Regions from separate parts of the Homo sapiens genome. Here region 2 is linked to region 1. The links come from fine-mapping of genetic effects on gene expression. Tissue or cell type: whole blood. Region 1 holds a variant in brackets; the other region holds the start of a gene. All regions are shown on one strand. Distances are between the middles of the regions.

Region 1 (8,265 bases):
GTGATGCAGCCTCCATCCTTGGTGGGCCCCTACTAGCCTTAATATTTCAGGGCAGTTTCCAGGAGAGCTGGCTGGAGTCAGTGGTTGGCATCCACACGCAGCAGAGCCATGAAGCTGGCTTTCCCAGCAGCTCACATTAACTGGCAGTGGCAGCCAAGGCAGGTCAGAAGCAGAAATGCTCTCAGGGCCTCAGGAAACATCTGCAAGTCCTCAAGGAGACAAGACCTGCCCCCTTATCACCTCTTCGGGGGAGAGAGTGGGCCTATCCCATCTGCAGGGAAAGAATGAACACATTGCTTTTATTTTCCAAGGTGTGTTCCTGTAAATGAAACAATTCACTGCTATGCAACTTTTAGGATTGGCCACTTGAGAGCAGGCCTTGTACTGGACAATGGGGTGGCAGTCCTGAAATCAGAGCCACCACCTGCCTGCCAGGGCTTGTGGGGCAAGGGTGAAGATGGTGACAAGTGACAAGCAGTATTTGCAATTCAAAGTGAATGGTGCAAGGAAAAGGGGATGTGGTGTAAGGGGGAGAGTATGAACTTTGGAGTCAGAAAGTTCTGTTTCTTCATGTCCTGGTTGTGAGACTTTGGGCAAATTTCCTAACATCTCGAGGTTGTTTCCTCATCTGGAAGAAATGTAAATAGTTATACTTGTATTGCATAATTACCATGAACATTAAAAGGTACAAGTATATCAATACTTAAAATTGCCTAGCAGATAATGGGAGCTCAATAAATGATAACATTACTAGTGTTATTAAAAAGGCTCAGTTGGAGGATCTATAAATGGTGTTGTTGAAAAGAAAACAGAAGGGACATATTAGCTGGGTTTTGATGGGGAAGTAGGAGTTTGTTGACTAGCTGGTAGGCAGGAAGGGTTTTCTAGTTAGCAACTTAGCAAGGACAGCTTTGTGAAGGAGCATGGAACATCCAGGCAACATGAGTGGACCAGTTAGGAGCTACTGAAATATTCCCATCAAAATACAGGGGCGTACCCCTGGGGCAAGATGACTCTCTGACGTCCACTTACTACTATTCTCAAATAAAGGACCATGAACAACCTCTCCGTGTAAATTCATAAACCAGCATTCTTGTTAGCTACGCTTCCTGAAATGGAGCAGCCTCCAGGCCCATGGCCTGACAATCCACAGGGAACAAACAAAGCTGAGAATCAGATTCCAAGAGCCCACGCTCTTCCTTCTCTGGAGTTAGACAGGCTTGAGTTTTCATTCCTGTCCTTGCTGTGTAAACTTGGCAAGTCACTCATCTCTCTTATCTTTCAGTTTTGCCATCTGAAAAATGGGAATAATTATACATTACACAGAAATTGTTATACATTATCACAGTACCTGGTGCATGGCAGGTGCTATCTATTCTTTAGAGAAAGGAGCTGCTTTCTTGCCTGAACTTATGGCAGAGTGAAGGCAAGACTGACATATTCTGGAAGAAGCCCCACAATCTCGACCATGAAATATCAAAAAAAGACTTTCACAAAAATGGCATAGGATAGATGTTATTCTGTACTTTGCTTTTTTCAATGAATAATACAACATGTGAATACATTTAGATCTTTCTCTCTTTTTTTTTTTTTGGAGACGGAGTTTTGCTCTTGTCACCCAGGCTGGAGCCCAATGGCACAATCTCAGCTCACTGCAACTTTCGCCTCCCAGGTTCAAGCGGTTCTTCAGCCTCAGCCTCCGGAGTAGCTGGGATTACCGGCACCTGCCACCATGCCCAGCTAATTTTTGTATTTTTAGTAGAGACGGGGTTTCCCCATGTTGGCCGGGCTGGTCTCGAACTACTGACCTCAGGTGATCTGCCTGCCTTGGCCTCCCAAAGTGCTGGGATTACAGGCGTGAGCTACTGTGCCCAACCCTTCTCTTTTTTAAAAATTGAGAATTTTACAGTATTATTACAGTATTAAAGCTCACCCTTTTAAAGTGTACAAGTCAGTGGTTTTTAGCATATTCATGAGGTCTTTCTTGCAATCATCACTATTACCTAATTCAGGACAATTTCATCATCCCAAAAAGAAACCCTGTATCTGTTAGTAATCATGCCCCATTGCCCCCTTCCCCTGCCCCCAAGGACTGCTTATCTTATTTTCCATCTCTATGGATTTGCCTATTCTACACATTTCATACAAATGGAATCATATTATATGTGGCCTTCTGTGTCTAATTTATTTTATGTAGCGTAATGTTTTCAAGATTCATCCATGTTGTAGTATGTACCTCATTCCTTTTTATGGCTGAGTAATATTCCACTGTATGGATATAATACCATATTTTATTTATCTATTAGCTGATGAGCATCTAAATTGCTTCCATTTTTGGCTATTATAAAGTAATCCTAATTTCTTTAAGTAGTTGCCTTGTATTCCATTAATTAGAGGTAGCATAGTTTAGTTAAGCACTTCTTACTGAAGGATAGTTCTGGTCTTCTTCATTGTTTGCTAAGCAAAGAAAGATATTGTTACCACAACATCCTTCTAGTCTAAGAGATAGTCAAAACTTACCCCATTTCCTGAGGGAATTATCCAACAGAAGCAAAAAGTTGTATTGCAAAATATACTAATTGCAGCAATTTTTGTAGTAACACAAAATTGGGAACTACTTAAAGAGTCCACAACAAGGAGCTCTTTAAGTAAATTCTATTGTTCAATTAAATAATGTACAATTACTAAAATGATAACTATGAAGGCAATATAGCAACAAGTGAATTGCAAATGGTGATCTTAAGTGGAGGAAAAACCATGACAAAATGCAAAATGGCATCCCTTGCCCACACTGGTTCTCGCGATAGTAAGAAGTAGGGCTGGGAAGCACATCCATGCCCTCTGGCCTTGAAATTCCTGTCTCTGCCATGTCACAAGGAGGAACAGAATCCAGGCTTCCTCACTAAGGAGCAGGCTGGGGATCACTGCCACCCTACAACTACTGTGGGTTCTAGGAGAGGGCCCGCTCAGGAGAAAGGAAGGCTCCCCTCCCACGTGACGAGGGGAAGCTGAAGTCACTGTTGCCTTCCCTAGATTTTGAAGGTCCTGACTCCCTAGGTCCCCAGGGAGTGGGTCATAGCTAGGCTGTATAATGGTGACGAGAATTGTGGACCCAAGTCATCCTGGTGGCTGTGGAACCAGTTGTTCATGAAGATAGTGGGTGAACTGTTGTGATGAGTACCTTCCAAACTTCCTGTGTGTGGTGCTGGGGTCTCTTGCCAACGTCCAATA[C/T]CTAGGACAAATGCTGACTTCTCAGAGTGCCACCTGGCACTGTACTTTCCAGAGTAGTCATTGCAACTACATTCAACAGCAGTAACTGTGAATCCATTCAATTGAACCAATAATGTGAAACTGTTATTTATTTATTTATTTATAAGATGGAGTCTCACTCTATTGCCCAGGCTGCAGTGCAGCGGTGCCATATTGGCTCATCGAAACCCGGGTTTTGAGCAATTCTCCTGCCTCAGCCTCCCAAGTAATTGGGATTACAGGTGTCTGCCACAACGCTCAACTAATTTTTGTATCTTTAGTAGAGACGGGGTTTCACATGTTGGCCAGGCTGGTCTCCAACTCCTGACCTCAAGTGATCCACCTGCCTCGGCCTCCCAAAGTGCTAGGATAAAGATGAAACCCACCACGCCCAGCCTGAAACTGTTTTTTAAAAGTATCCTTCCTGCCTGTAATCCCAGTACTTTGAGAGGCCAAGGGGGTGGATCACATGAGGCCAGGAGTTCGAGACCAGCTTGGCCAACATGGTGAAACCCTGTCTCCACTAATACAAAATTAGCTGGGCGTAGTGGCGTGCACCTGTAGTCCCAGCTACTCAGGAGGCTGAGGCAGGAGAATCACTTGGACCTGGGAGGCGGAGGTTGCAGTGAGCCATGATCACGCTACTGCACTCCAGCCTAGGCAACAGAGTGAGACCCTGTCTTAAAAAATAGAATAAAAATGGCCAGGCGCGGTGGCTCATGCCTGTAATCCCAGCACTTTGGGAGGCCGAGGCGGGCGGATCACGAGGTCAGGAGATCGAGACCATCCTGGCTAACATGGTGAAACCCCATCTCTACTCAAAATACGAAAAAAGAAAAAAAAAATTAGCCGGCCGTGGTGGCGGGCGCCTGTTGTCCCAGCTGCTCGGCAGGCTGAGGCAGGAGAACGGCGTGAACACAGGAGGCGGAGGTTGCAGTGAGCTGAGATCGCACCACTGCACTCCAGCCTGGGCGACAGAGTGAGACTCCGTCTCAAAAAAAAAAAGAATAAAAATAAAAAAATAAAAGTATGCTTCTTATTGTCATGATCATGTAAACCACAATCATTGCCATTAAAAGTACACAATGTAGCAAAACCAGTGATAACCTGTAGCCTTCAAAGTATTATTAATAAGAGAAATTTATCCTCAATGGAGCATGTTGGTTGGCAGCTTATTTTTTTGGATACTTATAGTTGTGATGTTTACGTTGTGATTTTGTATTTTGTATCGACCATAAATTATATTTTTTTATTTCTAAACCTTGTAAACAAAAAATATACTAACACAGAATTTTGTTAAAGTTTATATGAAGGAATATAAAAAAAAAACATTTTCTAGTATTCAGGAAAGTATATAGTAGCTTCCCAGTCCTCTGCTACCAGCTTCCAATCAGCTCCACAAACTGTGAAACTGTCCCTAAAATGTCCCCAGTCTTAGGGAGAAGTTTGAGATTATTAGGGTCACAGCTACACTGCTGTAACAAAGAGGCCCCAAAATATCGTGGGTGCAAAAACATCAAAATTAATTTTTCTCTTACAAAACAAAACAACCAGGCTGGATTGGTCAAGTGATGCCGCCATAAACAGATACAGTTTCAGCCAGGAGCGGTGGCACATGCCTGTAATCCCAGCACTTTGGGAGGCCGAGGCAGGTGGATCACCTGAGGTCAGGAGTTCAAGGCCAGCCTGGCCAATATGGCGAAACCCCGTCTCTACTAAAAATACAAAAATTAGCAGGGCGTGGTGGCGGACACCTGTAATCCCAGCTACTCGGGAGGCTGAGGCAGGGAGAATTGCTTGAACCCAGGAGGCGGAGGTTGCAGTGAGTCAAGATGATGCCACTGGGCTACAGAGCAAGACTCTGTCAAAAAAACAAAAAACAAAAAACAGGTAGTTTCCCTGTTGGTCTCCATCCCCTAAGGTGTCATTATTTGCTTAATCAAGGCTGGGTTGCTAACTCTGGGAAAGGAGGAAGAACCAACATTCCAGATAAGGAGCTTAAATCTGGAGATGACCCAGAAAATGTTCACATCACTTCCTTTCAATATTTGGTTAGTCCACACTTAACCACATGGTCACATCCAGCTGCACAGGAGTCTAGGAAATGTAGCCTGTAGCTGGGCAACTGTGCCCAGGAAGAGGGGAAGAATTTGGAGGAATAAGTAGCCATCTGCTACAGAGATTCTTTTTAATTTAAAAAATTTACAACATAAAAGAATTATATTACAATCCCATCATACAACTACTGACATTTTTCTATTGTTCTTTCCACATTTGAAACATGTGTGTTCCATGTATTTTTATAAAGTTGTAAAAATAGTATGTATGCAATTTTACATTCTACCAGAAATAAAACAGTATAATGAAAATAACATTAGATTCAAACAATGATATGCTATTTTTTTACCTATGACATTGGCAAGGTCTTTTAAAAAACCACAATAACCAGTGTTGGAGAGATCATGGGGAAATAGCCACTCAAACGTTACTCATGAGAGTGTACACATGTGTAACTTCACTTGGAGGGCAATTTGGTGATACATTTAAAAGTTTTGGCCAGGTTTGGTGGTGTACACCTGTATCCCCAGCTACACGGGGAGGCTAAAGCGGGAGGATGGTTTGAGCCCAGGAGTTTGAGGCTGCAGTGAGCTACGATCGCACGACTGCACTCCAGCCTGGGTAATGGAGGGAGACACTGTCTCAAAAAAAAAAAAAAAAAATTTACAATTTAACCTAAGGGGAAAAATGTAGAGATGTGGGTACAGATTTGTATAAAGGCTGGTTGTCGAAGCCTTACTTATGCTAAAAAATAGAACTAACCTAAATATCCAATGGGGATTGTTTAAATGAATTATGATTCAACCTTCCACAGAGATTAGAATCATGCTCTTGAAGAACACTGATGATGTAAAAAGTCTGCTAACATATTAAGTGAGAAAGCACATTACAAAATGGAATATATGTTCTGATAATTTTTGGTAAAAATTATCCATAGCTGTAAAGAGGACTAGAAGAATATTCACCCAAATGTCAACAGTGGTTCTTCTGGGTGAGTGCTATTGACAGCGGTTTTTACTTCCTTATTTACTCCTTTTGATATTTTTCAAATATTTGGCAATAGACATGTATTAGTTTTACAATAAAGGGGTTATTTAAAACACTGAATTAGACATACAGAATCCTAATACATTAGAGCAGAAATGATCCTTGAACTCCTTCATGTTTCAAATGGGGAAACTGAGGTCCAGAGAGGGTGAGTGACTTGCTAAAGTAACACAACTAGTTAGAATTGAGATTTGAACTGAAGTAGTTTGTCTTCAAGGCTGGTGTTCTTATCACTATATAACTAAAAAAAAAAACAAAAAAAAACACCTTTTTTTTTCTTTTTCTTTTTGTAGTCAATGTTCTGCTGAATAAAAAGAACTTTTCTAAAAACAGCTTGACTCCTGGCAGCTTAGTCAGTGTTGAGGTACACAAAAAAACAAAGTGTCTGTAAGTCCTTGGAGAACTTAAAACAAAACAACTTAAAACATACACACACAACAAATTTCTGGTACATCCAGTGCTTATAAGGAAATATACATTGGGAAAACAAACATTCACACTGATAGAAACAGGATATGAGTGTCTCATTCATTCATTCAAAAAATATTTGTTGCGCACCTACTACATGCTGTTTTTAACACACTAGATCCTGGTAATCAATGGTAAACAGACATGATTCTCACTCTTCTGGTGCTTACAGTATTTAAATTCTGCTAATGTTTGTTGAACATCTACTATACACTTTACATATTTTTAAAGTTTTTTTCAATATAGAGATGGGGGTCTCACTATGTTGCCCATGCTGGTCTCAAACTCCTGGGCTCAAGTAATCCTCCTGCCTTGGCCTCCCAAAGTGCTGGGATTACAGGCATGAGTCACGACACCTGGCCAACGCTATACATTTTTTACAAACCTTTGTCATTGTACTATACCAATAATATTAACCCCCACTTTATGAGTTATAATTTAGCTACTAAGCATTGTAACTAGGCACTATTTCTAATCTTACAACAGCCCTATGAGATAGGTATCATTAACTCTATTTCACAGATGAGAGAACTAGAATCATAGATATTAAGTGGATTTCCCAAGATTACACAGACTAAGTGACAGATCTGTTTTCTAATGCTCATCTCATTGCCCTTAAACATAGGGTCCTCTTCCCACAACTGTAGCCTCAACCTCGAGCACCCACTCATTACAGAGGTTAAATAAAGGGCTAGGACTTAATGAATTTAGACCATTTCAGACTTATTGAACTTATTGGGATGGAGCCCAGGAATCTGCTATTCTTTTATTATTATTATTATTATTTATTTATTTATTTATTTGAGACGGAGTCTCGCTCTGTCGCCAGGCTGGAATGCAGTGGCGGATCTCACTGCAACTTCTGCCTCCCAGGTTCAAGCGATTCTCCTGCCTCAGCCTCCTGAGTAGCTGGGATTACAGGCATGCGCCACCATGCCCAGCTAATTTTTGTATTTTTAGTAGAGATGGGGTTTCACCATGTTGGCCAGGATGGTCTCGATCTCTTGACCTCGTGATCTGCCCGCTTCAGCTTCCCAGAGTGCTGGGATTACAGGCATGAGCAACTGCGCCCAGCCAAATCTGTCATTCTTGATAAGATCACTCTATAACTTGTATCTGTGCTAAAGTTCAGGGGCCACCGCCCTTATCTGTAACCTGGAATCCTACAATTCAATCTCCCATTAGAGAATGTATCCTTAGGTCTCAGGTGGAATGTACCAATTCTCAAATTCCACTAGGGGACAGTATAGGCCAATATGTCTAGACAAGTGGCACACTGTGGAAGACTGTGGAATCAATCACTGATGACATTCATTCATCCCTGGACCAACAGCGAGGGCTTGTCGGCTGCCAGGCACTGGGCTGAGCAAAGGTGGATGATTTCTGTAATGCTATTTACAAACTTAGAAAGCTGCTTTGGGGCCAGATGCGGTGGCTCAGGTC
Region 2 (8,000 bases), 190 kb after region 1:
TCCTGGGCTCAAGCTCTCCGCCCACCTCGGCCTCCCAAAGTGTTAGAATTACAGGCATGTAATTCTATGTAATTTGAATTCTAACACTTCAGAATTACAGGCATGTTTGTCATTTACCAAGGGGTTTATATTTGTTATTATAAGAACTTTTTTGATTATTATTGATTGGGGCTCATAACAATTCTGTGATGCAGAAAACAGTTTTACAGACAAGCAAGCTGTGGCTTGAGAACATTAGCAGTGCAGCAGGCCACACAGTGAGAGAGTGGCCTCACAGCCTCGAGAATTACAGGTCATTATGCATGGCCTATCATTCTTCTGATTTTTTCAACCATTTGAAAATATAAAAACCACTCTTAGCTCGTTGCTTAGGTGGTGGGCCAGAATGTGGCCCATGAACCGTAGTTTGTGGACCCCTGGTCTGGACTGTTCTCACTCTAAGTCTATTGCCAGGTAGCTTTAGGCAAGACACTTCACCACTGTGAACATCAGTCTCCTTATTCCTTATAAAGCAAATTCAGTCTGGACTCAGGACTAGTTGGGAGGTGCCTGCCAGGGGTGGAGTGGGCAGCTGTCTACTTGGCTTCAACCTGGAAAAATCAAGACAACGGACAAATGCCTTTCTGTGATGTGCCAACGTACCTTCTCCTGAGTTCGAAGACGGCTTCCTGGGCTTATAGACTGGAGGTCTTCCCCTCTGCATTTGGGGCAGATCTGATCCTCGCCATTCCTGGGGAAACATGGACAAAGCCTTGGAGAGAGGCACTACAGCTCCCTGCACCATCCACTCTCCTGACAGCTCCAGAAGCCTCAACTATCAGCAGGGTGGTGATCATGTACGTCCACAATCCCAGAGCCACAGTTCCTAAATCGCAAAACTGCCGAGTATCCCACATTTTTTGGTAGTTTGCAGTGAGCTTCCTGGGCTGCCAAACCTGCCGTGACTGCACTGACCGGAAGCTATTATAGCCCTTACTTGCCCCACTTAGTGTGAATATATACATGTTTCATTGCAGAAACATTAATGTGCTTGATTACAGGGCACTGCCGCATTCCCTGCCACAATTACATGATGCCCTGATTTGCTTTTCTAAAAAAAATTCTGAATTACAAAACACATCTGATCTCAGGGGTTTAGGCAAAAGATTGCTGACATGTGACTATATTTGCTCTTCTCATTTGGTCCTCCATTTGGTTTTGGTCTTATATGTTTAGTAATTACAGAGGATCATGGCCTATTAGAACAAGAAAGGGCCTCAGAGAACATCTGTCCTAGAGGTTCTTAATCAGGAATGGGTGTCAGATTCTAATGGGTAACACCTGGGTACCCGTGGGTTTTTTGTCTGTTTTTTGGGGGTTTTTCTTTTTTTGAGACAGGGTCTTACTCTGTAGCCCAGGCTGGAGTGCAGTGGTGCGATCTCAGCTCACTGCAACCTCTGCCTCCCAGGTTCAAGTGATTCTCATGCCTTAGCCTCCCAAGTAGCTGGGATTACAGGTGCACACCACCACACCCAGCTAATTCTTGTATTTTTAGTAGAGATGAGGTTTCACCTTGTTGGCCAGGCTGGTCTCAAACTCCTGACCTCAAGTGATCCTCCTGCCTCGGCCTGCCAAAGTGCTGGGATTACAGGCATGAGCCACTGCGCCTGGCCAGCAACTGTGTTTTTACAAAGCTCCTGGTGTCTCTGACCTGCTACCGCTACCGAGATAGTCTATTTTACAAGTGAGGGAATGAGGCCCCAGAGGGCATGTGGATTGGTCAAGGTAGAGTGAGTCAGGAGCAGAGCTGAGTAGAAGCTCTTCAGGACTTAGGCCTCAGGCCTCAGCCCTCCAACTTCCAATCAGCTCCCTCCTCTGCCAGGTTTTGGAAGGAGGGAGAGGGGAAACCAGGAGACCCACTACCAGAGCCTGAGCTGAACCCTGACAATCCGCTTGATGGTAAAACCAGTGAACCTCTGCTCCTCCACCTCCTGGCTGGCCTTTCCACGGCCACAGCCTCTCCTCGCTATTCTCACAGCCTCCTCCTTTGTCGTCATGTTTGAACTTCTCACTTGCCTGATTCAGCTTTGCCACCTTCTTAAGCTGTAAAACCGCAAACAAAAGGTCATCACATGAGATAGTTTAAGGGCATATTTGCCAGGAAACTGACCAAAGCTGACCTAATCTGTTAGGCCTCAGTGTTCTCATTTGTAAAATAGGATCATAATAGTATCCACCCCTCTAAGTTGTGCTGAGGACCCAAGGGCAGAGCATTTGGCACACAGTAGGTGCATAATTGCTTAAAGAGGGATGTCCACAATAGTACTGATATCATGCCTTTCTGGGTTGTTAATATTTTAAGTATCATTAAATACACAAATATATATCGATCTCTTTGTCCCCTCCAAAAGGGTTCCCAGCAAACGGTCTGAGGTGATGAGCAATGCTGTGGAAGGAGAGATATTCGTCTAACAGTTTGTCATTCACCAAGAGGTTTATATTTGTTATTATAAGGACTTTTGTGATTATTATTCATTGGGCTTCATTAACAATTCTATGACACAGAAAACAGCTTTACAGACAAGCGAGCTGCGGCTTAGGGACATTAGCAGAGCACCAGACCACACAGTGAGACAGTGGCCTCACAGCCTCGAGGCTCTCCTCGGTGTGGATGGCTTTCCCCTGTGGGAGCTGATGCCTTTCTGTGGCTTCCTCTCCTTCCACCACAGCCAGAGGGGCAGTGTCAGGGAGTGTGAGAAAAGGGTGTGGAAACTGAGGCCCAGAGAAGAAAAGTCACCGCCTGAAGTCACAGGCTCCTCTGCCCCTCACCTCCCATCAGGGGTCCCTCCCTGGCACCCACTTTCTGCCCACCCTCCGCTCCTCCATCACCTCACCTCGGGTTCTCAGAGAGACAGCCTGCACAGCAGAGAGCCCTGGGCTCCTTTGGGTCCTGGCAGACGGTGGGAGGGCACCCAAAGGGAAACTCATTCTCATCAGGGGCCGGGCGAGGACTGCTGCCTGAGCTGGAGGCCATCTCAGGGTTCCAGGCTGGCCAGAGGGCCTGTTTAAGTTGCTCCAGGGCAGGGGACCAGCCTTGTGGAGTCCTGGCCTGGGCCTCACTCTCTGGTGAGTAGGAGCTCTGATGACTTTATCTTCTTCTCTCTGGCTTGTGTGGTTCAACGTCACAGCTGAGTCACAGCAGGGATGGAGCAGGAATTACCCTTTGTGGCGATAAAAATCCCCTGGATGGTGACTGAAGGCTTTAGGAGTGTCCAGTCATTTTTTTTTTTTTTTAGAGTGAGAAAAAGCAAGAGAGCAAGTCAGAGAAAATGACCCGTGTCACAGACTCTCAGAAAGCACAGTGAGAGTTCCCCTGGTTGAGAATCGCAGGCTGCCGCTGGCTTCCCCCACTTCCCTGGGCACATCGGAGGAGGGGGCCACAGCTGGTCCCTGGTCTGTGTTCCCTGGCACCTCTGAGCAGCCTGGAATTCTCAGTGGGGGTGCTCACCTTCCTGGTGGAAATCCCCAGGGTGTTGGAGACAGGTCCAAAATTTCAAGTTCTAGGCGCTTTTGCTCTGCTCTGTTTGGAGTGTCTGGGTGACCTCAAGGAGAAGTCACTTCCTCACAGTGGGTTCTGATGACTCCATCTGTAAAAAAGAAGTTGCAACAGGTGGCCTCTGGGCTGTAAGATTCTGGGACCCTATCTTGCCTGGGACTGAGGCAACCAGAAGGAGCAGGAAAGCCCTGATGAAATCCAAGGCCTAGGACCACAGACTCCTCAGGGCCCTCCCCACACCACCCCACTCAGGAAGTCATAGGTGGCTACATGCTCCGGTCAGGTGCCACCACTTTACTGCCTCAAGGAGAACAAAGCGCTAAACAAATGCAAGATCACAGCAGCTGGTCTCAGCATCCAAGTGGGATGTAGATCCACATTTGCAGGAAAAGTGCACTGGGGAAACGATGGCTCCCAGAATGTGTACTGTGTGCTGGGCAACAGTTTCCCTCCAAATCCTTACAGCAACCTGCAAGGAATTCTTCTGCAGCTGTATATAGGGTCAGAGAAGCAAGATGCCTGGTCCAAAGGCACACAGCCTCTGGTAGTGGAGTGGGATTCACACCAGGGCTGTGGGGCCCCAAGCTCTGTGTGCTTGGGATGGAGATCAGAGTACCCAGCTCTTGTCTCATCTATCAAATGGAGAAGACAATCCCTACACATCTTTCCATCCTGCTTGGCTGCTACAGAGGTTTTGCAAACTTTCACAGTGGTTTCAGATCATGGGTTTTGAGGTCAGACAGAGCTGAGTTGAAATCCTGGGTCCACTGCTTACTAACTGTGGGCCCTGGGACAAAGTCCTTAACTTCCCTGAAACTCAGATTCTGCATCTGTAAAATGGGACAATAATACCTATTTCACCCATTTGTTGTGATGACTAAATGAGATAGTGGGTCAAAGTGTGGTGTGTAACCCAAGTGAAGTACTTGAATGACATTTGGCTCAGATGGTGACTACAGGCCTTCCAGCTCCTCAGAGAAAAGGATTAAAGTGGTGCATTATGCTTATACTGTGCTTTCACGTCTATCTACTGGAGCCTCAACAGGTGGGCAGGGCAGGTCATCTGGCCTGAGATACATTAAACTGCCCACCTGCCCTGGTGTAACACCAGGGCTGCCACAGGCTGGTGGCAAAGACAGCACGGCATCTTACCGCCACAATGTACATCAGGACCTCCACCCCCATAACAAACGACCTCCAGGCCTGCATCAAGACTATCAGAAGACACTCCCTTTTAACTGTGTACCCCATACCTGCAAGCTTTCCTGCAGCCAGCCCTACCTGTTCCCTCCTTCCCCTGGTTTGGGATAAAACAGGCACCCAAGACTTCTCTCCCCATCTGTGGGTCCCTTCTCTCCCCTCCGGCCTCAATACCACCCTCTCTACCTGCTCATTCCCACGGACATCAAAACGTGCGCAACCTGCTCTAATAAGAAAAGGGAAAAATAGTACTACTTTTGGGTACCGTCTTACGTAATTTTACAGACATCATCTCATCTAATTTTCACTCTGTGAAGCAGGTATTGCCATCATCATCCCCACCTTACAGATGAGAAAACTGAGGCACAGAGAGGCTAAGCGACTTGTTCAAGGTCTCACAGCTAGTGAGTGGGGACCCCTGAACCCAGAGCCAGTCCTGTAACCACGCACGCTTTTAAAACACTCTTTATTCTCGTCTCCAATTTCTACATCTACTCTCGCCTCACCTAACGGTAGAACTTCTAGAAAAGATTGTCTATACAGGCACTTGGATCTCCAGGGAATCATCTCTCCAAGTGTATACGCATGTCGGGGACGCCAAATGCCCTGGGCCCGCCCCAGTTTCTATCCAACCAGCCCTCCTGCCAGCACCTGACCCGGCTCTCAGCCCTTCCTTCCGGAATCCCTTCCTTTCCCCGGCTTCCCGCATCCTCTGCGGGGAATTCCCCCCGCGTCTCTGGTGGCTCCTTATCCGTCTCCTTGACCCCTTTCTCTTCTACACTGGGCCTCCATCGGCTCCATCCACGAGGAGTCTCTCTGCGCCGCGTGTCCCCATCTCCCACTCGTCCTTTGGGGCGCCCCTGCACCAGACCCCACTCCCACGGGAAGTCTCCGTGGGCCGCCCCATGATGAGGCTGGGCGCCCCGCTCTGTGATTCCTCGCGCCTGCCGGCGCCAGCACAGCCCCCGCCGCCCGGCTCTGCAGGCTGAGCCCCCAGCCAGGTCGGTGAGCCCGCCCGAGGGCGGGGGAGTGTCGCGTCGCCACCTCCACATATCCAGTTGCGAGGGCAGCGCTGGGAGCCAGGCAGCGCCGGTGCCCGCGGAAAGAGGAATGAGCCCCTGCGGGGCCGGGGCGCCCGCGGCTGGGCTGGGGGCAGTTGAGTCCGGGGCGGTCTCTGCAGCCGAGGTGCCAGGTCCCCGGCTGCACCCGAGGAGTCCCCGCCTCAGCAAGCGGGAGCTGGAGCGGGGAGTTCGGGGCGAGGAAGGGGGCCGGGGAGCCGCCCTGCGGTCCCGGGGCAGGGGTGTAGGGCAGCCAACCTCGGCGCCGCCTCCGCCACCGCCTACCGGCGGCCAGGCCCGGAGCTTCCGGTGGAGTGTGAAGGACGCAGCCGCACCGGCGGAAACCGGCAAGGCAGGGCCGGGGCCCGGGGCTGCTGCTCCCCAGACCGCCGCGGGGCGGGGCGAGCGATCCCTGTGAGGGGAAACTGAGTCTGAGGGCCGGGTCTGCGGCGCCACGGGCACTGTGCGCCCAGTTAACTGACACGCGTGTACGCAGCTCCTCCGCTTGCGGGGCTCCTGGCATCTGGTGCAGCACCTGCGCGTGTTTAGTGCTCAGTAAGATGCCCCCTGAAAAAACAAACACAAACCGGGAATTGGAGCCCCCACCCTGGTCCCCTGCCTGCCCAAAATCCGAGTAGTGAGAAGGTGAAGAGGAGTAAAACCGCAGTCTTACCTTTCTTGGATTTCTCCAGAAGATCCTAGCACAGTGCCAGGCTCGCCCAAGCTTATTGGGTTGGAGCAATCAAGTGATAGTACTTGATAGTACTTGATCAAAATGATAGTACTAAGTGGTTCAAGGCACTGTGCTTTTACAAACTGGATATTTTAAGGAACCGTTTCTGTTTTCGTCTAAACACACACACACACGGTCGCTAAATCCTTAAGAATATATTAATCAAAATAGTTATGGAACTTAGTGTTGGGGTAGAATTTTAGATTAAAAGCTACACCTTTATTTTTGCGAACTACCAATTTGACAAGGGCTCCTTCTCTGTCAGATGTCTTAACCTTGTAGGACTGATGGTGGAGGGAGGGATGAAGCTGCCCACCTTGTTGGTTTGGTTTTAACAGCTCAAAATCTCTTTATGTGTTAGGGTCTTTTTTTTTTTGAGATGGAGTTTGGCTCTTGTCACCCAGGCTGGAGTGCAATGGCCCAATCGCGGCTCACTGCAACCTCTGCCTCCCGGGTTCAAGTGATTCTCCTGTTTCAGCCTCCTGAGTAGCTGGGCCCACCACCACGCCCACGACCACGCCTGGCTAATTTTTGTATTTTTAGTAGAGACGGGGGTCTCACCACGTTGGCTAGGCTGATCTCGATCTCCTGACTTCAGGTGATCCTCCCACCTCGGCCTCCCAAAGTGCTGGGATTACAGGCATGAGCCACCGCGCCTGGCCTAGGGTCCCTTTTTATGTCCTGACTCTCAACTGGATTGTAAGAGCAGGGAACGATCTTTTACTTGTTTTTTAACCTGGCATGCCTGTAAGACTCTCACTTATTGGAGGCAGAGCTGCTGTCCTCCAACTTCCGCTAGACAGGCGGAAGCTGCGGAACACAGGGTACTCTAGTGAAAGGGGGACCTCAGAGGCCCACCTGGGAGGGAGATGCTGCTTGTGGACAAGCAGAAGATCTCAGGGGCCTCTAAGAGAGAATTTCTGCAATCTATGGGCAGGGGCCTCTAAGAGAGAATTTCTGCAATCTACGGGAGGTTGCCCAGATGTAGCCTCTGTGGGGCCATTCAATTCTACGGGAAAAGGATTCAAAGAGTTAAGTGTTTGAATTAAAAATTGATGGACTCGGCCGGGCGCGATGGCTCACGCCTGTAATCCCAGCACTTTGGGAGGCCGAGGCGGGCGGATCACAAGGTCAGAAAATCGAGACCATCCTGGCTAACACGGTGAAACCCCATCTCTACTAAAAATACAAAAAATTAGCCGGGCGTGGTGGCGGGCGCCTGTAGTCCCAGCTACTCGGGAGGCTGAGGCAGGAGAAGGGCGTGAACCCGGGAGGCGGAGCTTGCAGTGAGCTGAGATCGCTCCACTGCACTCCAGCCTGGGAGAGAGTGCGAGACTCCATCTAGAAAAATAATAATAATAATAAAATAATAAATAAATAAATAAAAATTGATGGACTCTGAGTCAATTAGTCTGATAGTTTTCCCATCATCAGAAAACATTTAATTATCTTTGACCTTGCCTTTTCCTGGGTG

What was found. PIP is the estimated chance that this variant, and not a neighbour inherited with it, causes the effect.
Region 2: it holds the start of TRAF1, and the variant in region 1 is fine-mapped to the expression of TRAF1 in whole blood (TOPMed, PIP above 0.99).

What each region holds. Positions count from the first base shown.
Region 1 is chr9:120,735,071-120,743,335 of GRCh38, forward strand. No RefSeq gene overlaps it. Among named protein-coding and RNA genes, the nearest start is that of MEGF9, 25 kb to the left of the region's middle. The variant C/T (reference allele first, on the strand shown) is at 3,232.
Region 2 is chr9:120,923,063-120,931,062 of GRCh38, forward strand. TRAF1 (TNF receptor associated factor 1) reads right to left here and starts at 3,734. Exons shown (of 8, transcript NM_005658.5): 1 at 3,488-3,734; 2 at 2,874-3,239; 3 at 643-730. The coding sequence starts at 3,013. RefSeq lists enhancers at 2,363-2,886, 2,483-2,552, 3,013-3,352, 3,693-4,012 and a silencer at 5,673-6,262.